Linked DNA regions of Homo sapiens: region 1 is linked to region 2. Evidence: fine-mapped expression QTL. A gene starts in region 2. The other region holds a variant in brackets. All regions are shown on one strand. Distances are from middle to middle.

Region 1 (15,296 bases), 37 kb after region 2:
CTTAAAATCCTAGGGTCCTTAAGAACGATGCTAAAGCTACTCTGCCTGTGCTCTATAAAGAGAACAAAGAAGCCCAGATGATAGCACATCTGTTTACAGCATGGTTTACTGAATATTTCAAGTCCATTATTGAGAACTATTGCTCCAGAAAAAAAGTTTTCTTTCAAAATCGGACTTCTCATTGACAGTGCACCTAGTGACCCAGGAACAGTGATGGAGATGTACAGGAGATTAATGCCGTTTCATGCCTGCCAACACAGTGTCCATGCTGCAGCCCATGAATCAAGGAGTAATTTCAAATTTCAAGTCTTATTTAAGAGATACATTTTGTGAGGCTGTAGCTGCCATACATACCGATTCCTGTGATGGAGCTGGGCTAAGTAAATTAAGAACCTTCTGGAAGAGATTTGCCATACTAGATGCCATTATGTGGTCTTGCATGTCACGGGAGGAGGTCAAAATATCAACATTTTAAAGTTTTTTCTTTTTTATAAATATTTTTGGAGACAGGGTATCACTCTGTCACCAGGCTGCAGTGAAGTGGCACAATCATAGCTCGCTGTAGCCTCGAAATCCTGGCCTCAAATAATCCCATCTCTGTTCCCCAAGTAGCTGGGCCTACAGGCATGCATCTAAAATATCCACATTAACCGGGATTTGGAAGAAGTTGATTCCAGCCATCATGGATGACTTTGAGAGGGTCAGGACTTTAGTGGAGGAAGTCAATGCAGAGGTGGTGGGAATAGCAAGAGAATTCGAATTAGAAGTGGAACCTGAAGATATGACTGAATTGCTGCAATCTCATCATAAAACTTCAACAAATGAGGCGTTGCTTCTTACGGATGAGCAACGAAAGTGGTTTCTTGAGATGGAATCTACTCCTGTTGAAGATGCTGTGAACATTCCTGAAACAACAACAAAGGATTTAGAATATTACCTAAGCCTAGTTGACACAGCAGCGGCAGGATTTGAGAGGACTGACTCTAATTTTGAAAGAGGTTCTACCATGGGTAAAATGCTATTAAACAGCATCACAAGCTACAGAGAAATCTTTTGTGAAAGCAAGTGTCAATGAACGCAGCAAATTTCACTATTGTCTTATTTTCATAAATTGCCACAGCCACCCTAACCTTCAGCAACCACCATCCTGCTAAGTTAGCAGCCATCAATATTGAGGCAAGACTCTTCACCAGCAAAAACATTATGACTTGCTAAAGGCTTGGATAATTGTTAGCAATTTTTTAGCAATAAAGTATTTTTATTTTTATTTATTTATTTTTTGAGATGGAGTCTCACTCTGTCACCCAGGCTAGAGTGCAGTGGCGTAATCTCAGCTCACTGCAACCTCTGCCTCCCAGGTTCAAGTGATTCTCTCACCTCAGGCTCCTGAGTAGCTGGGATTACAGGCACACACCACCACACCCGACTAATTTTTATATTTTTAGTACAGATGGGGTTTCACCATGTTGGCCAGGCTGGTCTCGAACTCCTGACCTCAAGTGACCCCTCTGCCTTGGCCTCCCAAAGTTCTGGGATTACAGGCATGAGCCATCGCACCTGGCCTGAAGTATTTTTAAATTAAGATGATAGGTACATCTTTTTTTAGACATAGTGCTATTGGACACTTAATACACTTTAGTATAGTATAAAGATAACTTTTAAGTGCACTGGGAAACCAAAATATTCAGGTGATTTGCTTTATTGCAATACTTGCTTTATTTATTTATTTATTTTTATTTTTTATTATTAGATGGAGTGTCACTCAGACTGGAATGCGGTGGTGTCATCTTGGCTCATTGCAACCTCTGCTTCCCAGGTTCAAGCGATTCTCCTGCCTTAGCCTCCCAAGTAGCTGGGATTACAGGCGCCCAACACCATGCCTGGCTGATTTTTGTATTTTTAGTAGAGACAGGGTTTCACCATTCAGACCACGCTGGTGTCGAACTCCTGACCTCAAATGATCTACCCACCTCAGCCTCCCAGAGTGCTGGCATTACAGGTGTGAGCCACCGTGCCCAGCCTATACTTGCTTTATTGTAGTGGTCTGGAACTGAACCTACAATATCTCCAAGGTATGTCTGTACGTAACATCAGAAAGTTGCATGGGACATTTGATGATTCTACATGGGAGAGAAGGTGATAGGAAGTAAACTGTTGGTGGCAGGAGAATGGAGGTACTGGGTTCAGGTAAGCACTTGTGTGGCATTTCACCTCCCCCAACAGTAGAAAGTCTGGCTTATTCCTCTGACCTTTATGAACAAGACATTCCTATGTCCTTAGACGTTCTTTACTATGACTTCTACAACAACCTGGGCATCATATGGAAGGTGAGTGACCTTATGTATGATAACTAACAGTGTTATGAATTTGGGCTCAACAGACTTTCTTGAGATCTTTGAGAACTTGCCCTTGCCTGCCGTTGTGCCACATGCTATGAATCCTCTGCCTTCAAATAGCTTAAAATATATTTGGGGAGGTAAGTCAGAAAGACATAAAAACAATTCCTAACACTATAAGGCACCATTGAAGTTTCAAATAATCCATTCAGATACAAAGTCACCAGGGAAAGAGAGTATTTAAGAATAGTAGGATTTAGAAAGGAATGGGGTTTGGGACTCCAGGAGTGGGTGTGCTGTGAGCAAAAGAAGACTATGATCTTGATGATCTTGGCTTCCCAGGAAACAGAGAGCATGGGACACTGGCTGGAGGGGAACTTCACAGAATCATCCCGCCCTTCAGATGAAAGAAGCAGATGAAGACCTAAGGTTATTGTTGGCTTCCTCTTTTGCCATTCATAAAACAATATACATGTTTGAATAGAAGCTTTGCAAACAATGATCGGGATGGTTGGCCAGATGTACCCTACAGGAGGTGGGAGAAAAGCAGCAATCTGTCCTAGCCCCAGGCAGGGAATGTATTATTTTATGCCAAGCAGAGCCCCCAAAATAGTGTAAAAAGCCAAGATCTCCGCTGTTGGTGCGATGAATTTCCCAGGAAGGGGAGAACAGAGGGGCTCCTTCCTTCTCTCTAAAACAAAGGAGAATGATTTGGCCCCAAGCAGAAGCAAGCAGAGGATAAATATTTACTGGCAATTTAAGGAAACAAGGGATGATGTTGCTCTGTCCCAACCAATGGAGTTGCTTCTCTTTACTTGATGTTCTCTCAGCATTGTGTACACAGTTTCTACCTCCCTATGAGGCACTTGCATCTCTAACATCTTGGGATTTTTCTTCTCATTCTTTTGGATATGGGTGTCTCACTACCATATGATTACAAGCACCCCAGAGGCAGGAGCTACTTCCTCTTCCCCTTCAAGTGCCCCTGAGTTTCAGGATACTGCAATGCAATGAACGGGTGTATAGTTGATGTGCCTGTCTAGTTAATCAAATGAATCTGGACAGAGCTGCTTTCTCTGCAGCTTTTACTACCCAGACCCCCACGTGTAGGCTGACTGGGCACAGGCTGAGATAACCAACTGTCCTACAGGAACTCTGGAAGAAGAGGCCACTGATAACCTGGCCCCTGCTGTGCTGTTCAGTGTCTGTGACTCTGAGAGCACAATAGATTTTTCCTATCTCACTACAGAAATTCCATGGTGCCAGAGAGGAGGCCTTGGCTTGAGCCAGAGCCAGCTTTGTAAAAAGTATATAGTGGGACACAGAGGGTATTATGTTAAAAAAGAGAATACCATAGAAGGGGCAGAACTAAGCAAAAATGATACCACCTCACTATAAAGAACATTTTTCTAATCCATCATTTGAATGCAAAAGCTACAAATAGTTTGTTGAGTGTCTATATTACAAAGCACAAAGGTAGGGGCTAGCATAGGAAACTGCTAAAAGCTTAAAGTTTAACTTTGAAGAATGAGTAGGATTGGATTTCTAGGCCTGGCAATATGGCCAACTAAGAAGGTTTCAACAAAAATGTTTTTCAATGCACAGATGAGCTCTCAAGAAAGAAAATTACATCTCTTGTTTCCAAAAATGCAGACAGAAGTTTAAAACAAAGAGCCCAGAAAAAACATGAGAGACATTATAACTTCTCTAGGGGAGAGGTTGGAAGAATGAGCATTAAAAAACATGTGACCCGGGTGGTGCTTCTCAAACTGTAATGTACACAGGAGTCATCTATAAGTCTTGCTAAGATAAAAATTCTGATTCTGCAGTGGGGACTAAGGGTCTATTTCTGACAGCCCACAACATGCTGCTTCTGTGGCTGCTGGTTCAGGGCCCCCACTAGGGATCTATGTAGCATTGCGTCTTAAAGCCAACATTGAGACTACATGTTAACCTCAGCAAGGCTTTGAGCCTGATAAAACCATGGAGCTGGTAACTGAAATTCCTGCATTAAGCTGGAACCCTGCTAGAGCTGCCTCCTTGGTTATAAGATCAACTAGAAAAATCTACCCGTCAGTACCAAGGTATTACAAGAAAGTTTTTCTGTTTCTGGGTGGAGAGATAAAGTCTCTCTTGAAAAATTGGAACTCTAAGCCTATACCTTGCATGGATGAAGGATTCAAATTTATTTATTCGGCCTAGGAACCCGTAAGTTCAGGAACAAACATAAGAAAAAAAAAAAAACAGGTCTTAGGACTGGGCATGGTGGCTCACACCTGTAATCCCAGCACTTTTTGAGAGGCCAAGGCGGGCTGATCACTTGAGATCAGGAGTTCGAGACCAGCCTGGCCAACATCGTGAAACCCTGATTCTACTAAAAATATAAAAATTGGCCAGGCATGGCGGCGGGCTCCTGTAATCCCAGCTACTTGGGAAGCTGAGGCAGGAGAATTGCTTGAACCCGGTAGGCGGAGGTTGCAGTGAGCCGAGATTGCGCCACTGCACTCCATTCTGGGTGACAGAGCAAAACCCTGTCTCAAAAAAACAAAAAAAAAAAAAAAAAAAAGCAAGTCTTAGTTAAGTGATACCCATAGAGTCCCTGGCAGAAATAGAGATAATAACATTAGAAGGATATTCTCACAACCCATGCCATGAGAAATGTTTACACACACACAATGTATATAAGAGCACAAATTGAAAATTACAAAATACATAAGACAACAATTCACCATTCATTCACCAAGAATGAGCAGACAAAATAAACAGGAGAATTAGACTTGATAGAACAGAATGGCAATCAGAAAGACAATATGAAAGAAAAATGTTTGAAATGATTAAATACATATCTACAGAAGACAAAACCCCTAGAAGAGAACAAGGCACTATGAAAGTAGAAAAAAAGATTTAAAAAAAGAATTTTAATGAATAAGTCTCATCATTGAGATTAAAATGCAGGGCACAGCGTAACTGCAGATCAGCAAAACTGAATAGCGAATATGGGAATTGTAAAATAGATCATTGTCATCTGCGATTGTAAAATATATGCACAGATTACCCTCTGCAACCAGAGAGATAAAGAGATAGAAAATATTACAGCATGTTAAGAGTAATGGAGATGAAGAGTCGACATTTCACCGGATTTGAGTTTTGAGAGAATGAATAAGAATTCATACTTGAAGATGTTAGTCCCAGGCAGGACAGAGGAAACCAAATCTATAGCAAGAAGCCTTGTACTGAAGCTACTGAACACACACACACACACACACACACACACACACACACGATTTACAAAACCTTAAAAATATACAAGGGAAAAGGGAGAGAGAGAGAGGAGAAAAAAAAAAAAACAGAAGGGAGGAGAGGAGGAAGCAATGAGAGAAAAAGACAGATTACACAGAGCATAACAATTCGCCTGACAAAAGGCTTCTCAGCGACAGCGATGGACACCAGAAGATGGTGGAATAATATTTCCAGCTGCTCGTGGAAAGTAATTTTAATCTAGAAACTATAGAGGGCTAAACTATTGAATAAATATAGAGATGAAACAAAAAAATATTCAGATTAAGGCCGGGTGTGGTGGCTCACACCTGTAATCCCAGCATTTTGGGAGGCAAGGCGGGTTGATCACTTGAGGCCAGGAGTTCGAGACCAGCCTGGCCAAGATGGTGAAACCCCATCTCTACTAAAAATACAAAAATTAGCTGGGCATGGTGGTGGGTGCCTGTAATCCCAGCTACTCAGGAGGCTGAGGCAGGAGAATCACTTGAACCCAGGAGGCGGAGGTTGCAGTGAGCTGAGATTGTGCCACTGCACTCCAGCCTGGGCAACAGAGCAAGACTCCATCTCTCTCTTTATATATATATACAAATTAAGACTAAGATAATATATTATTCACAGGCCCTCAATGAAAAAGAGTATATTTTCTAAAGAAGAAAACTGAACCCAAGTGGAAAGAATCAGATACAAGAAGCATTGGAATCTTAATCAAAAACAACATGACAATAAATGTGCAAAACAAGGGTTGGGGCAGTGGTCTCAGGGATTTGTTTCACTTTTCCACACACTTAGGGGCAGGGGATGGTTTGGGGATGAAACTGCTCCACCTCAGATCATCAGAGATTAGATTCTTATAAGAAGCGTGTAGCCTACATCCCTCACATGTACAGTTCACAATAAGGCTCAAGCTCCTATGAGAATGGAATGCTGCTGCTGATCTGACAGGAGGCAGAGCTCGGGCAGTAATGCGAGTGATGAGAAGCGGGTGTCAATACAGATGAAGCTTCTGACTGCTGCTCACCTCCTGCCCTGTGGCCCAGTTCCTAATAGGCCATGAACCAGTACCAATCCATGGCCTGGGGCTGGGGGATCCCTGAGTTAGGGGACTTGGAGGGCTTTTATGGAAAGAAATAGTTGAAATGCATACACTTTGACCTTCAAGAGACTCTGTACTATGTGAGGCTGGATGTGAGCCTGGCTCTAGCAGAGGGCTCCTTTGGTGACTAAGTGTAAAGTAAAGATGTTAAGGCGGATGCTTAATCCTCTGACCCTGCTGCACTTTTTTCTTAGAACTTCTCATTACCTGGCATGGTACTGGTTCATGCCAGTACTGTGCTTTATTTGTTTCTTGACTTTCTCTCCTATTATAATGTCCATGAGGAGTTGGACATGTTGGTGAATGCCTGTAACCCCAGTTACTTGGGAGGCAGAGGTGGGAGGATTGCCTGAGCCCAGGAGTTGGAGGCTGGAGTAAACAATGATTGTACTGCTGCACTCCAGCCTGGGCAACAGAGCAATACCCTGTCTCTAAGAAATAAGTAAATAAATAACTTCTATGAGGGCAAGGACTTTGTCTATTGTGTTCCCTGGCCTGGCGCATAATTAGTGCTTACATATGATTGAACACAAGAAAGGGAAAAAATTGTGCAGGGTTTCAAATGTATGGGGTGCAGACTTTCTTCTATGGGGAACAGGTGGGACGAGACTAAGGAAAATAACCAGCATTTCTGAGTGTCCACCAGGTCCTGGGCTATACACACAACATATTATCTTATTTTGCATGGATTGTGGAACAGCAAAAAGCATCTATTAGTGATCAAAATGAACTGGACTTCCAATTTGATTTAAAACACAAGCCAAGAATATTTTATTAATCTCAATTCATTGTTTTTAGATGTTACTGTGTATTTCCAAGGGAGATGTGAGCTTTGAGCTTATGTCTAATGCAATATCATGTGTCCGACTGAGGCAGCGGAGATAAGCTCCTGCTCTGTGTTCCTGCTAAAGCTTTCATACTCTGGCATGGCCACACTCAACACCACTTAATGATCTAGTCATTCCAGTTTTCTAACACCTGCCTGGATAGACCCCAGGCTGCAAAAACCCTGAAATTCCGGTTCTAACAACAAATCACTGAAAATCAGAAGGCCCCACCTTGAGCTCACAGCCAGCTCCACCTCCTTGAAGACGGGAGGCCCCTCATGCTCTGTGTTCTTAATGGCACCAGGAAGATCCCCTCCTGGGGCCTCTTGAGGTTAATTGTCTGCAGTAGAGATGTTGAAGCCAGAGAGACTCTCAAATTCTGATGCCTCTACCCCACGCCACCCCTACCAGCAAACTGTAGCCAGTTTCAGATGTACCCTGACCGGAATAGTTCTTTCCATGAATGGCGTCGGACACTGTGTCCTCACTCAAAGTCCCGATGGCATGAGGGTGACCTTGTACACACAGGATCCAGGGCAAAGAACAAGACGTATTCCCAGTCCTCACCTACAGCCAACACGTGACCTAAGAAGACCTTTTGGAGAACAGCCTGAGCAGCTGGGCAGCCATATAGAAAACTGCTAGCTGTGCATCTACAGGCTGATGGAACAATCACGACCTGTCCTCATGGAGAAGCGTCCGAGGTGTGGCCCCATGTTCCTGCCACACTGCATTGACTCTTTCTCCAATGGAGTCTCGGGTACTCTTCCTTTCTGCCTTTTCTGGTATTTGCAATCTCCACCTTCACCACTTGCTTCTTTCCCCGGGGTTGAAACAAGTTCACAAATGAACACATAAATAAACCCTTCCTCTTTCCCCTGTACATCTCCTTACTCTATCATCACCCACTCTCCCTGAATTTGTGCCCGAAATAACCCCTGCTGCTGACAGCCCCCAAGAGCAGCCCAGTCGACTTATCCAAGGGTCCTTTCTTCTTCCTTTGAACATAACTTTAAATAAGTCTTTTGTCCTAGATAGCACGCTCTAGAAGTACAAGGAGTACATCTTAGACTTCTTGTTAACCCCGAGCTTTGTACGCAGCAGGTGCTCACAATTGCTAGAAGGGATGGAGAGAAAAAGGGATTGATTCAGAAAATGATGTCACTGCAGGCAGTATTCTTTCAAAGGAGTGAGTTTCTGAACTTGTAGACCTTGAAGAAATTGTAAAGGATCTGATTTCAGACCCAGTGGAAGCTGCAAGAACAATGTGGTTTCGAGTTCTGCTGTTTCATTATCCCGGGTTGATTCAGCTGGCTGGGCGGGTGCCCTCTTTTCTCTCTAGGAGCTCCAGCTGCCCCTCCAAGCCCCTCTTCTGGCCTGGCATTCCCCAGCCTGCAGTGAAGGTCAGAGCAGATCCTACCGTATTCAGAGAAGTAGGAAACGCGAGCTTGAATCTTCTTCAGTGTTCTCAAGAGAGTGAGATATTGGCAAGCACCTGTTTTCTCAGCACTGAGAAAAGGGATCAGGGATTGGTGAGTGGAAGACACTAATTCAAGTAATGAAGGGCTTTTGCTCTCATTTTGACAAGATGAAAAACCACACAATAATTTATGAACCACGCAGGCAACTTTTAATCACCACGATTACTATAGACAGGCAAGGGCAGTGTTGATAGGAGTGTGGGAGAGAGCTTCCTGGAGGAGGTGAGGTGGAAGCTTCTCCTGGTGCAATGTGCAGTGTGGGAACAATGTCCAAGAACCATGGTTTGCAGGTCTGTGGCATGACCTAAAGGCTTTGGAAGGCCCCAGAAGACAAAAGCACATGTCAAAGCTACAGACACTTTGCAGTTCCTTTCAAAGGGCTCACAGGATGGAAATGGAGTCAGCGAGAGGGGCATCTACCATGCTGTTAAACGGAGAAGAGAGGTTTGGAGATTTGGGGACTGGGCTTTTGCACACCAGGGACAAAGCATGAGTGCAGCTTGTGATAAGAATTGATTTCTTCCCGGCCCCAGTCACCCCTGCTTTTGGTGATAGTTTCCATTTAAAACCGAATTCCTATGAAAGGAGCGCGGGGGCCTGCCCCGTGCCTGCGACCTGGGGTGGAGCAGACAAACACTGAAAAAGGGCTGACATGTATGGATGCCTCTGGTGATAGCAGTGGTTATATTTAGTCCCAAGCTCAAGTTAAACAGGGGGCCTCCTGCAATATGTATGAAGAGAGCACCAAGAGCAAACACAAGTGCAGGGCCAGTAAAAATAAAAGAGCAAAGTGCAAGACTCGAAAGAGTAAATATGCACAGGCTCTGGCCCCAAGATATGCCAGGTGGGTGGAGCTAGACACTGTGAACAGGGCCAGGAGAGCCAGTGCCACTGCAGAGGGGCCCCTTCCCATTGTCAAGTGCTCATAGTGAGTACAACAAATCCTCCAAGGCCTCCTGCCTTTACCATCCACTCTCCAGCTGCATGCTTAAGAAAAGGCTGGGAAATAATCATCCTGGGTCCCAGTTTCTTCATCTATAAAATGAGAGGACCGAGATGCAAAAAAAACAAATTCCTCTCCTGCATTAGGATTTTTCCAACTCACCTTACTAGCTGCCTGGAAAGGTGTGAGGCTGAATGACACCTCCTTTGTTCTCCAAACACTGTTGACATAGTGACCCAACTGTTAGTTATCTTGATCATGTCCTCTAAGGGATCAACTGAGCAAAGAGCCAAAGAACCCACTTTTTTTTTTTTCTTTTTCAGAACTAGAGTTGATCTACTTTCAAGTTTAACAGCTCAGCTCCTAAAGGAAAATCTGACTCTCTGTGTAGCAGCAATACACTGGGCTGGCAGCCTCTTATAGCACCTTGAAGCATATTAGAAAAAGTTACTCT[A/C]TCCAGGTAGGCAGAGTCTTCAGGGCCCCCAGCTTGGTGAAGGGAGCTCAAGCTGCATCTCGTCACCTCCCCACCCCAACCCTCTCCACTCAACCCTTGGCCGGCACTTCCGTGGGGCAGAACCTACACAATCCTACACCTTAATATAGCAGCTGGCTGTCAGTCAAAGTCAGGAAGGTTTATTTTCTTGATGCCTGTTCCTTGCTTACAGGGCCTCTTTTTCATGTCCACTCAACTGTCTGGATTCTTCTGCTTTTTGTTTCATGTACTCTCCTTTCTCTCTGACGTGTCATCTCCATACAAGTAAGCATGAAGTTGGTGCAAAAGTAATTACTTTCAATGGCAAAAGCCGCAATTACTTTTGCACCAACCTAATAATAGCGTGATAACACACAGATTCACAAAACAGGTCATACTTTTATTCACCAGTCTAGGCTGTACCTTCCTGAAAGTCAGGGACATGGTTTATCTGAGCAAAACGCTTGACCCATAGTGGATATTCAGTAAATACTGTTGAATGAATGAAAAACAATCTCCCAGTGGTTCTAAATTGCCTTTGAATCATGGATTTCTTTGAAATCTGATGGAAGCCAGGGTGATATGATTTTGCTCTGTGTCCCCACCCAAATCTCATCTCGAATTGTAATCCCCATGGGGAGGGGCCTGGTGGGAGGTGATTGGATCAAGGGGGTGGTTTCCCCTAGGCTGTTCTCCTGATAGTAAGTGAGTTCTCACGAGATCTGATGGTTTAAAAGTGTGGCACTTCCCCTGCATCTTGCCGTCTGCCTCACTTCCCCTTCTCCTTTTGCCAAAAATGTAAGTTTCCTGAGGCTACCCCAGCCATGCGGAACCGTGAGTCAATTAAACCTCTTTTCTTCATAAACTACCCAGTCTCAGGTAGTTCTTTATAACAGTTTGAAAAGGAACTAATACACAGGGATATTTTCTCGCAAAATGAACATGTACAAACATACTAAATTTTGCATACAGTTTGGGAAGGATCACCAACTCCTAGCAGGAAGGGATTTAGATTTTAAGCCAGGATAAAAAGGTGTGATCCCTTTAAAAAAAAAAAAAAAAAAAGGTTGCGGGGGGGACTAGAAATGAACTAGGACCTGACCCTCACCAAGAATCTAATGTGTCACCGGGTAACGGGTCTGTCATCTTCTTTAATCCTTACAACCACCCTTTAAATAGGCATTACTATCTTCATTCTACCAACGAGAAAATGAGGTTTCAATAGCTTTTCCACTGTGAAACATCAGACCGAATATTCAATCCAAGTCTCTTTTACCTGCAAACTCATATTCTTCTGCTATGTCATTATGCCTCCAAATATTACAAATTCTCAGGATTCTACAGTCAATTCCCATTTATTGTGTTTTGATGGATGAGGCCCTTTAAAAAAACTACCATCTAAACCAAGCAAACAAATGCATCTTAAATATAGTCATATATTTTAGATTAGACAACTTTATAAAGGATTCCTATGGAGTTTTAACAAAATCTATAAAATGATTGCCAAATGTATCTTGCACATTATATTTTCCTTAGATTCTTAGACTAACAGTAAAGCAAAATGAAACCAACATCTCAGCTAATCAGAATGCCCCTCACTGGCACCTGTGACTAGGTTAATGTGCTTCTGTCCATGCTGAAAGAAAGCAAAACAGAAGATAAGAGTCTTGACTTTAGCATACATTGACTCATTCACTTACACCGTGGATAGAAACACAAACTGCAGGGTCAGAAAGACCTAGGTTTGAGTTCTATCCTTTTCGCTAGTTGTTAAGAGACCTTAGGCAAGTTACTTAACTTTGAAAAGGCTTAGCTTCCTCATTTTAAATGAGGGTATTCACGGTAACTATTTCAGAGGAATTGTTATTATTATTATTATCATTTTTTGTATTTTAAATATACAGTAGGAACATTTATTTTAACACTTCTAAAAGATATTTCTCCATGCCTGATGATTTGATATAAAAATCAAACCCATCATACTTTCCCCATCAGTCTCTCTACATTTAGGGCAATCAGAAATTTGTACAACACGAATATTTGCTTCTGAAATGAAAATTACAAATTTTATTGAAGGGGTTAATGAATAATGCACTTAAACTTCATAGTGCAATGCTTGGCTTGTAGTAAATGTGCAGTAAATGTTAGCTACAATTTTTCATCTTTACCATCTTGGTCTTCATCGATGTGGTTCTACAACGAGCTGACATGAACAGAATGATGGCCCTGAGGTTCAACAGAACTGGTAGTTTGCCACATGACTCAGCAATTCCACTCACAGTTGTCTGCCCAAAAGAAATGAAAGCATGTGTCCATAATACCAATACCGTTAGCAAAGACTGCGGCATTATTCGTAATAACCAAAAAGTAGAAACAACCCCAAAGGTCCATTGATAGGTAAAAGGATAAATAAATTGCTGTATCATACAATGGAATGCTCTACAGTGGTAAAGAGAACAAAAGCCACGTGAAAAAGAGTATATAGTGTATGCTTATTTATTTATTTGGTTGGGGTTTCTGTTTCTTTCTTTTTTTTTTTTTTTTTGAGAGAGAGAGTGTCCCGCTCTATTGCCCAGGCTGGATTGCAATGATACCGTCACAGCTCACTGCTGCCTTGACCTCCCAGGCTCAACTGATTCTTCCAACTCAGTCTCCTGAGTAGTTGGGATCACAGGCATGCACCACCACACCTGGCTAATTTTTTATTTTTTGTAGAAACAAAGTCTCACTATATTGTCCAGGCTGGTCTTGAACTCCTGGGCTCAAGCAAACCTCCTGGCTCCCTAAGTGCTGGGATTACAGGCATGAGCCACTGTGCCTGGCCCTGTATGATGATTTATACAAAATTCTGAAAAAAGTTGAACTAATCAGTAGCATTGGAGTTCAAATCTTACTTGGGGAGAAGGAAGAAGAGAGCACAAGAACTCTTTGTTGGTTGGATGGATATGCTCATCATATCCTGGTGATGGTTTTATGGGTATATACAGATGTTAAAACTTACCAAATTGTGGCCGGGTGTGGTGGCTCATGCCTGTAATCCCAGCACTTTGAGAGGCTGAGGCAGGTGGATCATTTGAGGTCAGGAGTTCGAGACCAGCCTGGCCAAAATGGTGAAACCCTGTCTCTACTAAAAATACAAAAATTAGCCGGATGTGGTGGGGGGGCGCCTATAATCCCAGCTACTCGGGAAGCTGAGGCAGGAGAATCATTTGAGCTTGGGAGGCAGAGGTTGCAGTGAGCCGAGCTTGCACCACTGCACTCCAGTCTGAGTGACAGTGAGAGCCTGTCTGAAACAAACAAACAAACAAAAAACTTACCAAATTGTATATTTGAAATATGTGCAATTTGCTGTAAGTCAATTATACCTCAATAAGGCTGTTTAACATTTTTTTCTATTTCTTTATTAAAAATTTTTTTTTTATTTCAATAGGTTTTTGGGGAACAGGTGGTATTTGGTTACATGAATAAGGTCTTTTGTGGTGACTTCTGTGATTTTGGTGCACCCATTGCCCAAGCAGTGTACACTGTACCCAAGGTGTAGTCTTTTTATCCCTCACCTCCCTCCCAACCATTGCCTGGAGTCCCCAAAGCCCACTGTATCCTTCTTTTTGTTATTGTTGTTGAGATGGAGTCTCACTTATTCTGTCACCCAGGCTGGAGTGCAAAGGCGCCATTTCGGCTCACTGCAACCTCTGCGTCCCGGGTTCAAGCGATTCTTGCTTCGGCCTCCCAAGTAGCTGAGATTACAGCTCAAGCTACCACACCCAACTAATTTTTTGTATTTTTAGTAGAGATGGGGTTTCACCATGTTGGCCAGGCTGGTCTCAAACTCCTGACCTCAGGTGATCCACCCGCCTCAGCCTCCCAAAGTGCTGGGATTACAGGCGTGAGCCACTGCGCTCGGCCAATTATTTGTATTTTTAGTAGAGACAGGGTTTCACCATTTTTGCCAGGCTGGTCTCATACTCCTGACCTCAAGTGATCAGCCCACCCCAGCCTCCCAAAGTGCTGGAATTACAGGTGTGAGCCACTGTGCCCGGCCCACTGTATCATTCTCATGTCTTTGCATCCTCATAGCTTAGCTCCCACTTAGGAGTGAGAACATGCGATGTTTGGTTTTCCATTCCTGAGTTACTTCACTTAGAATAATGGTCTCCAATTCCACTCAGGTTGCTGCAAATGCCATTATTGCATTTCTTTTTATGACTGAGTAGTATTCCATGGTGTATATACATATACCATAATTTCTTTATCCACTATTTGATTGACGGGCATTTGGGTTGTTAAGCATTTTTTTTTAATTAACAAAAATTTAAACTTCTGCAATGGCTTTTATTGCTTTCAGAATAAAATCCACATTCTTTATGATGTATATAGTGCTTGTTTATGTCTTTTCTTCTTTCTTCTTTTCTTTCTTTTAAAAAAGTCTCTTAACTGCCTACTAAATGATAAATTACTCTTTTTTTTTTTTTTTTTTGACAGAGTGTCATTCTGTCACCTAGGCTGGAGTGCAGTGGCACAATCTTGGCTCACTACAACTTCTGCCGCCCTGGTTCAAGTGATTCTCCAGCCTCAGCCTCCTGCGTAGCTGGGACTACAGGCGCACGCCACCGTGTCTGGCTAATTTTTGTATTTTTAGTGGAGACCGGTTTTTACCATGTTGGCCAGGCTGGTCTCGAACTCAGCCTGTGATACTCAGGAGATCCACCTGCCTCAGCCTCCCAAAGTGTTGGGATTACAGGCGTGAGCCACCGCACCTGGCCCTAAATGATAAATTACTTCTGAAGAGAGGCCCTGTTTGTTTGGTTTACCACTGGGTCCCCAGTACCAAATGCAATGCCTAGCACAAAAACACTCGACTGTTA
Region 2 (8,896 bases):
AGGTTTGGGGACTCATCCAGATCCTGTGTTCTGTGATTCTCAGACTTGAGATTTTAATCCTAGTTTCGGCACTCATTTCCTTAATTTAGTCCATTGAAACTGTCAAATCAAAATATAAATTTGCCATGGTAATTAGAATGATAAAAAGTGCTCAGATTTTGGGAGGCTGAAGCGGGAGGATTGCTTGAGCTCAGGAGTTTGAGACCAACCTGGGCAACATGGTGAAACCCTGCCTCTATAAAAATTGAAAAATTAGCTGGGCATGGAGGTGCACACCTGTAGTTCCAGCTACTTTGGAGGCTGAGGCGGGAGGATTGCTTGGGCCCAGGAGTTTGAGGTTCCAGTGAGCTATGATTGCACCACTGCACTCCAGCCTGGGCAACACAGCAAGATCCTGTCTTATAAAAAAAAAGTGCTCAGCTTTAGTGAGGCAGTAGTGATGGGATGGGTTTTTGGCATATCATAAAATATTTGAGGATTTTTTTTAGGTTCATTTTGTTCTGATGATAGAAGCAATATTATTTTAGAAGATATAATACAAACCAGGATACCAGAAATTCCTGAAATCTTGTCACCTAGGTATTCTGATTTTAAATATATATCTCTAGTCTTTTTTCTCTGCATTTACATAATACAGTTGATCCTTGGACAACATGGAGTCTAGGGGAGCCTAGCCCCCACACAGTCAAAAATCCACATATAACTTTTGACTCCCCAAAACCTTCACTTCTAACAGCTTACTGTTGACCAGAGTCTTACCAATAACATCAACAGTCGATTAACACATATTTTGTATTTTATTTGTAACATATACCGTATTCTTATAGTAAAGTAAACTAAAGGAAAGAAAATGTTAAGAAAATCATAGGAAAGAGAAAATATATTTACTATTCATTAAGTGGATGCGGGTCATCATAAAGGTCTTCATTCTCATCCTCTTCACGTTGAGTAGGCTGAGGAGGAGGAAGAGGAGGAGAAGGGGTTGGTCTTGCTGTCTCAGGGCGGCAGAGGCAGAAGAGAATCTGAGCATACGTGGACCTACAAAGTTCAAACTCATGTCGTTGAAGTGACAACAGCATTTTTCCCCACAAGTCTAGTTTCTATGTACAATTTTATCTTCTCTCTCTCTATATATATATACATATGTAGACATAAATATAAATATATAATATTTTTTTTTCATTTCATTTGAATCTTTTTTAAAATAATGGCTTTAATGATGATATAAAATTACATCACATGGGCTGGCCATGATGGCTCCCCGCCTGCAATCCCAGCACTTTGGGAGGCCGAGGCGGGTGGATCACCTGAGGTCAGGAGTTTGAGACCAGCTTGGCCAACATGGTGAAACCCTGTCTCTACTAAAAATACAAAAATTAGCTGGGCGTGGTGGCAGACTCCTGTAATCCCAGCTACTCGAAAGGCTAAGGCAGGAGAATCACTTGAACCTGGGAGGTGGAGGTTGCAGTGAACCGAGATTGTGCCATTGCACTCCAGCCTGGGTGACACGAGTGAAACTCTGTCTCAAAAAAGGAAAAAATAACAACAGTAAAAATAAAAGTACATCACATGGATGTGGTACATTTAATTTAACCAGGTACCTGTTAATGGTCACCTAGGTTATTTTGTCATCTTTTTCCCCCTATAATGTGGCATTGAACATTTTAGTACCTTAATCTCTGTGTGTTTTTAATTCTTTACCTAGGATAAATGTCTCTATGTGATATTAGGATAAAAAATGATTAAAAAATTAGAAAGTTTGTACCAATTTTAACTAATGAAAATGTTTGCATTGGCTGGGCACAGTGGCTCATACCTATAAATCCCAGCATTTTGGGAGGCTGAGGTGGGAGGATTGCTTGAGTCCAGGAATTCAAGACTGGTCTGAGCAACATAGTGAGACCTCGTCTCTACAAAAAAATATTTTTTAAAAATTAGCCGGACATGGTGGCTCATGCCTGTGGTCCTAGCTACTCGGGAGGCTGAGGTGGGAGGACCGCTTGAGCCCAGGAGGTGGAGGCTGCCATAAGCCATGTTCATACCACTTCACTCCAGCCTAGGTGACAGAGTAAGACCCAGTCTCAAACAAAAAAAAAAAAAAAAGAAAAACTTGTATTATCTTTTCAATTTTTTTCCTAATTCAATAAATAAAAAACAGACATTGTTTTTCATCTAAATTTCTTAAATTAATAATAAGGTTGAACATTTTGCATATTTATAGGCCACTTTAAAATTTTTTTTCATGAATTTTCTATTCATGTTCTTTGCTTATTTTTCTATGTGGAATATTTGACTTTATTATTGCTTTGTAAGAACACTTTACATATTAAGGTATTAGCTCTGCTGCTATGCTTATTGTAAAATATTTTCACAGTTTGTCTGTAGTCTTTTTTTGTTTTACTTATCGTTTTTACTTAAAGAAAATATAGTTTTTGTTAACTCAGATTTATCCTCTTTCAGCATGATTCTCTTTGCTTTTTATTCTTATAGAGCCAATTTTTTACTTGTGGAAAAAACAAATATTCACCTATGTTAAAGGCTTAAGAATACGAAATTGCTGGTTGTTTTTATTTTATTTATTTTTATTTTTTTTGAGACAGAGTCTTGCTCTGTGGCCCAGGCTGGAGTGTGTGATCTCTGCACACTGCAACCTCCGCCTCCCAGGTTCAAGCAATTCTGCTGTCTCAGCCTACAGAGCAGCTGGGACTACAGGTGCATGCCACCATGCCCAGCTAATTTTTGTAATTTTAGTAGAGATGGGGTTTCACCATATTGGTCAGGCTGGTCTCAAACTCCTGACCTCAGATGAACCACCTGCCCAGCCTCCCAAAGTGTTGGGATTACAGGCGTGAGCCACCGCCCAGGCCTGCTGGTTCTTTTTAAAAGAATGGTATCCTGACATTTAAAAACCTACCATAAACTTAATGAAAGCAGGTTTGTGTCTATCTTCACTATTGAATCCCAGTATCTTGCTTGATGCCTGCCATATAGGAAACACCCAATCCCTATTTGTGGGATGAATCCATTTCTTTTTATCAGATTATAGCAAATATAAAGCCACAATGAGATGTCACGTCACACCCGTTAGGATGGCTATTTTCAAGAAGACCAAAGAAAATAAGTATTGGCAAAGACGTGGAGAAAAGGGAACCCTTGTCTCCTGCTGGTGGGAATGTAAATTAGTACAGCCATTATGGAAAATAGTAGGGAGGCTCCTCAAAAAACCACAACTAGAACTACTATATGACCCGGCAATCCCACTGCAGGACATATATCCAAAGGAATTGAAGTCAGTGTATCGGAGAGTTATCTGTACTCTTATGTTCATTGCAGCGTTATTCACTAAGCCAAGATACGGAATCAACCTAAGTGCCCATCATTGGATGAGTGAATAAAGAAAACATGGTATATAAACACAGTGGAATACCATTCTACCTGAAGAAAGAAGGAAATCCTGTCATTTGTGCCAACGGGGATGAACCTGGAGGATGTTAAGTGAATAAGTCAGGCACAGAGTGACAAATATAGCATGATCTCACTTATATGTGGAATCTGAAAAAGTCAAACTCATAGAAACAGAGAGTACAGGGGTGGCTACCAGAAAGTGAGGGTAGAGGGACTGGAGAGGTATCCTTTGGCCAAAGGATACAAAATTTCAGGTAGACGGGAGGAATAAATTCAAGAGATCTGATGTACAATATGGTGCCTATACTTGGTAATGATATGTTATATATTTGAAAATTGCTGAGAGTGGATTTTAAGTGTTCTCACTGCAAAAAAAGTGTGATATAATGCATGTTAAATAGCTCGATTTAGCCATTCCACAATGTATACATATATGGAAACCTGTTGTACACCATAAGAATATACAATTTTTACTTCTCAATTAATAAAGAGAGGCAGAGAGGCTCACACCTGTAATCCTAGCACCTTGGGAGGTCAAGGCAGGAGGATGGATTGAGCCAGGAGTGTGAGACCAGCCTGGGCAACATAGCGAGTCCTGTCTCTACAAAAATTTTTTAAAATTAGCCAAGCATGGTGACTTGCGCCTGTGGTCCCACTTTCTTGGGAGGCTGAGGTGGGAGGATCATTTGAGCCTGGGAGGTCGAGGCTGCAGTGAGCTGTGCTCACGCCACTGCGCTCCAGCCTGGGCACAGAGCAACACCCTATCTCTAAAAATACGTAAATAAATAGTGTCCCTCAGGACAGCTATCTGTGGAAGACACCCTTTTAGTCAAATAGATTTGGGAAATTTTAAAACAGTATATATGCCCTTTTGATTATCCTCTGTGGCACATTTGCCAACGGAAGGCCCCAAGAAATGCTGACCAAAAAACCTGTGCATTTAGTTTTAAAACTAGTGGGTTTCATACTCTTTTGTTTGTTTTAACCTTGAAGCACCCCCCACCCCCCACCGCATCTCGTCCCCCCACAACATAATCTTCTCTCAAACGCATGTTGTGCTGGACCACACCAGAGTTAATCCTGACCTGTAGCCAGGTGGGCATAGATAAAAGGAAATATTGTTTGCCAGTCCCTGCTGGAATGATGCCTTTACACATCTGTCTGATCTGATTGCTCCACTGTTTTCTTTCTTCTCTTCCCTTTCCACGGTTCTAGCCTGTTCATCTAGCCCCATGATGGCTGTGGACATCGAGTACAGATACAACTGCATGGCTCCTTCCTTGCGCCAAGAGAGGTTTGCCTTTAAGATCTCACCAAAGCCCAGCAAACCACTGAGGCCTTGTATTCAGCTGAGCAGCAAGAATGAAGCCAGTGGAATGGTGGCCCCGGCTGTCCAGGAGAAGAAGGTGAAAAAGCGGGTGTCCTTCGCAGACAACCAGGGGCTGGCCCTGACAATGGTCAAAGTGTTCTCGGAATTCGATGACCCGCTAGATATGCCATTCAACATCACCGAGCTCCTAGACAACATTGTGAGCTTGACGACAGCAGAGAGCGAGAGCTTTGTTCTGGATTTTTCCCAGCCCTCTGCAGATTACTTAGACTTTAGAAATCGACTTCAGGCCGACCACGTCTGCCTTGAGAACTGTGTGCTCAAGGACAAGGCCATTGCAGGCACTGTGAAGGTTCAGAACCTCGCATTTGAGAAGACCGTGAAAATAAGGATGACGTTCGACACCTGGAAGAGCTACACAGACTTTCCTTGTCAGTACGTGAAGGACACTTATGCCGGTTCAGACAGGGACACGTTCTCCTTCGACATCAGCTTGCCCGAGAAGATTCAGTCTTATGAAAGAATGGAGTTTGCTGTGTACTACGAGTGCAATGGACAGACGTACTGGGACAGCAACAGAGGCAAGAACTATAGGATCATCCGGGCTGAGTTAAAATCTACCCAGGGAATGACCAAGCCCCACAGTGGACCGGATTTGGGAATATCCTTTGACCAGTTCGGAAGCCCTCGGTGTTCCTATGGTCTGTTTCCAGAGTGGCCAAGTTACTTAGGATATGAAAAGCTAGGGCCCTACTACTAGTGACTGCAGGTGACAGGGCGTGGCGGAGCTGCCACAGACAAGCCTAGCTCTGCTCACTGTGCAGTGGAGATGGAAGGCCAGGGAGGAGCAACGTGGAACTTCCATGAGGCCCCGTTTGGGAAAATAAAAGGATCCTCTTCACTTCTTTCTTAAACAGCAAATCCAGCCAGGTTCAGATTACACAACCAGTGTCTCACTCAAAGGAGCAGTGGTGGCTGGCGCGCTTTCGCACTGTGGCAGCCACGAGAGTCTGTGCACGTCTGTGCTGGAAAGGGTATGGATGGGAATCAAGCCTATGCCAGTGCTGATGAAGCTGGAGGAGTCTCTCCTCTGCTCTCCACTCAGATGTGGGACATCAGTCGCCAAAAGCCACTCAGCCCCAGCCACCTCGCGTGAGACCCTCACTGTTCATTGTGTTCATCTTTGGGTGCTCTCTGCCAGCCAGGCCTTTCCTGCAAGCTGCTGTGCTTCCCCGTCCACGTGTATCTCTGCTGTGACACACTGAGCTGACGCACATTTCCAGTGCAGCTGCAGAAGAGAAATGGGATTGGCTCTTGTTTTCTGCAAGTTCATGTTTTGCATTTTATGTTCTTCCACAATTGATCTGATGTTCAGGAAAAGATAATAAAGGCAAATTAGTTAGTGGTTGAGACAGGCATTTCCTCCTCCCGCTTCTTGACCCCACAGATGTATTCCAGCAGAGAGCAACACACCAGTCATCAAAACCCACTGGCTCCTGTGCGGTGTCACAGATTGCAGGGTTCTGACAAGGCAGGACAGTCAAGAGTGGGGACACTTTCAGCTTCTACTTTTGCCTTCTAGGGGGAGCTTTCTAAGTCCCCACATTTACCCCGAGTCACCGGAAAAATCTGATTTTTCCCCCGAAAGCTCAATGACTTTAACGTGCTTGGCTGGTTTGTCTCATTCTTTATGAAAGAATTTTGGGGCCGGGCGCGGTGGCTTATGCCTGTAATCCCAGCACTTTGGGAGGCCGAGGCAGGTGGATCACGAGGTCAGGAGATCGAGACCATCCTGGCTAACACGGTGAAACCCTGTCTCTACTAAAAATACAAAAAAATTAGCCAGGCGTGGTGGCGGGCGCCTGTAGTCCCAGCTACTTGGGAGGCTGAGGCAGGAGAATGGCGGGAACCTGGGAGGCGGAGCTTACAGTGAACCGAGATCACACCACTGCATTCCCGCCTGGGCAGCAGAGCGAGACTCCGTCTCAAACAGAAAAAAAAAGAGAATTTTGAATCTCCTTTCCCAAAGAGTCATCTTTTCTGCTGTGTTTAGGACATTTGATTTGCATATCCAATATCTCCTCGAAACCTTCAGAAAATGGTTTTATCGTGACTGTGATTCACACTATCTAGAACACTTTACCAGCACCCAGGGACATGGACTTGGGTGTTCTTATTTATGGTGTGTATGTAAAGAGATAGGGGAGAAAAACCTCACCCAAGTTCTTATACGTTATTTTAAACGTTTGCCAACTCTGAAATTTCAGAGATTCATTGTTCTTAACCATATTGGACTAAAGTCTGTTGGTTAGTGCTGTTGTAAAAGAGACCTCTGGGGCCGAGTGTGGTGGCTTATGCCTGTAATCCCTGCACTTTGGGAAGCCAAGGCGGGCAGCTCACCTGAGGTCAGGCGTTCAAGACCAGCCTGGCCAACATGGTGAAACCTCGTCTGTACTAAAAATACAAAATTTAGCTGAGTGTGGTGGCAGGCGCCTGTAATCCAGCTACTCGGGAGGCTGAGGCAGGAGAATCACTTGAACCCAGGAGGTGGAGGTTGCAGTGAGCCGAGATCACGTCACTGCATTTCAGCCTGAGCGACAGAGTGAAACTGTCTCAAAAAAGAGAGACTTCCGGGACAGTCATTATCAGATAGGCCCCAAACCTGTGATTTTTCTTGGGCAAGATTGGTGTTTACTTAGGGGTGCTTTAAAAATATATTTTTACAAGTATACTTGTAGGAAGTTGGTTTTTTATTTTCTATTTTTGTTTGTTTTTGGAGTTTGGTTAAACGACTCTTTTATTTTCTGTTTTGCCTTATCTTACTAAAGTGAAGTTTTCCTAAGGCAAGCAAGAAGAGGAGTGGAAGCACAGTTGCCTGGATTTGGAGGCAGAGTTGTCAGGCTTTTCAAGCTAAGAGTCTTGTGCTTGGATTTTCCAGATTAATTTGAAAAGACCTCCCATTTGTGGCTTTGTACATAACCAACAGGCAGATACTGAGTGCCTTGGCTCCTAGAGTTTTGTGGTTGGGTTAGGTTGTTTTTGTTGTTGTTTTGTTTTGGTTTTGTTTTCATTTCTGAAGTTTAAGATGCCTTGACTTTTTAAATGCTCTTAAGGCTATTCGATGTAATTCTTACTCCTAAAACTGGCTGTTCTTAGCCTGAAATCTAATGCTTTGTTTTTTGTACCTCTCCCAGGTGGGTAACACTCTAGGATGACATGATGTTATAATTTTAGGGGAAATCACATTTTTACCTTATGCTGTTACTGGGCAGAACCACGTTTTATGTAAACATACCAGACATCGGGTAACAGACAGTACTTTAAATGTTATAAATTTGGTGATCAGAACTATTAATAGCATAAATCGAACTCAAATGGAAGCAAAACTGATTTCATGCAGGTCCTGAATTTTACTTTGCCTTAAGAAGTGCCCTCCCCACAATGCAGGAGAGGCACAGAGTGCACTGTCATTGACATGTTACCCGACTAAGGATCACTCTGTTCATAAGAAAAAGGCCTGAAGTGACTCTGTTTAATAAAGTCAGTTTAATTTTATCTAATAATGATCTTAAGACATTCCCATGTCAAAATTTGAAATATGGTAATTCAGTGATAACTATCTCTTCTAAAGCAGCCGTAAACCCTCCCCACTACCCGTCTTTCTCCCAGCTCACCCTGGCTTTTTTTGCTGGGGGTGCTGGATGCAAGCCCCCAGCCAGCACACCTGGGATGCTCACCCTGCCGCACAGTTCAGAAGGCAAGTCCTCACCTGCTCGCAAAGACCCTTCTTCTCCAATAAAAGACTCTACTTGCCTGAGTTTCCTCATCAGGGCTGTCATTCAGTGATGTATGGGGGTCTGAAGAATACTGCCTTCTATCTGTCTTCTGTTTACCACTTGCTCCTCTGCTACCCTCCTGCCGCAAACAGTCTTCTTCCTTTTGGCCCAGTTCTGTCCCGTGAAATTCTCAGAAGGCCTCGGGAGCTGCGCTGATGTATTCTCTCCTTGTTTGATAGCTCATCATCAGTAGATAAGCCTACACACTTCAGAGGGTGACAGGTTTCTTACTTGGAGACTTCACTGCACCTTGACTTGTAGATTTGCCTTCAGACAGCTCTTGGTTATGGTTACAAGTGGCCCCCGAGTCCCAGAATCTTTCCCA

Alleles and levels. Positions count from the first base shown, and alleles are read on the strand shown. Sizes are in standard deviations (SD) of each study's normalised expression.
For the expression in anterior cingulate cortex of the gene that starts at base 4,870 in region 2, A is the high allele of the variant in region 1 and C is the other (moderate effect, 0.50 SD a copy in GTEx).

The links. PIP is the estimated chance that this variant, and not a neighbour inherited with it, causes the effect.
Region 1: its variant is the best candidate, but not a certain one, in a credible set for the expression of PPP1R3B-AS1 in anterior cingulate cortex (GTEx, PIP 0.90).

Annotation. Positions count from the first base shown.
Region 1 is chr8:9,097,279-9,112,574 of GRCh38, reverse strand. It overlaps a transcript of ERI1 not described here. Among named protein-coding and RNA genes, the nearest start is that of PPP1R3B-AS1, 36 kb to the left of the region's middle. The variant A/C (reference allele first, on the strand shown) is at 10,414.
Region 2 is chr8:9,137,393-9,146,288 of GRCh38, reverse strand. PPP1R3B-AS1 (PPP1R3B antisense RNA 1) reads right to left here and starts at 4,870. Exons shown (of 2, transcript XR_007060810.1): 1 at 4,491-4,870; 2 at 779-1,038. PPP1R3B (protein phosphatase 1 regulatory subunit 3B) reads left to right here. Exons shown (of 2, transcript NM_024607.4): 2 at 4,621-8,896. The coding sequence starts at 4,638. The coding sequence ends at 5,495. RefSeq lists an enhancer at 5,301-5,800.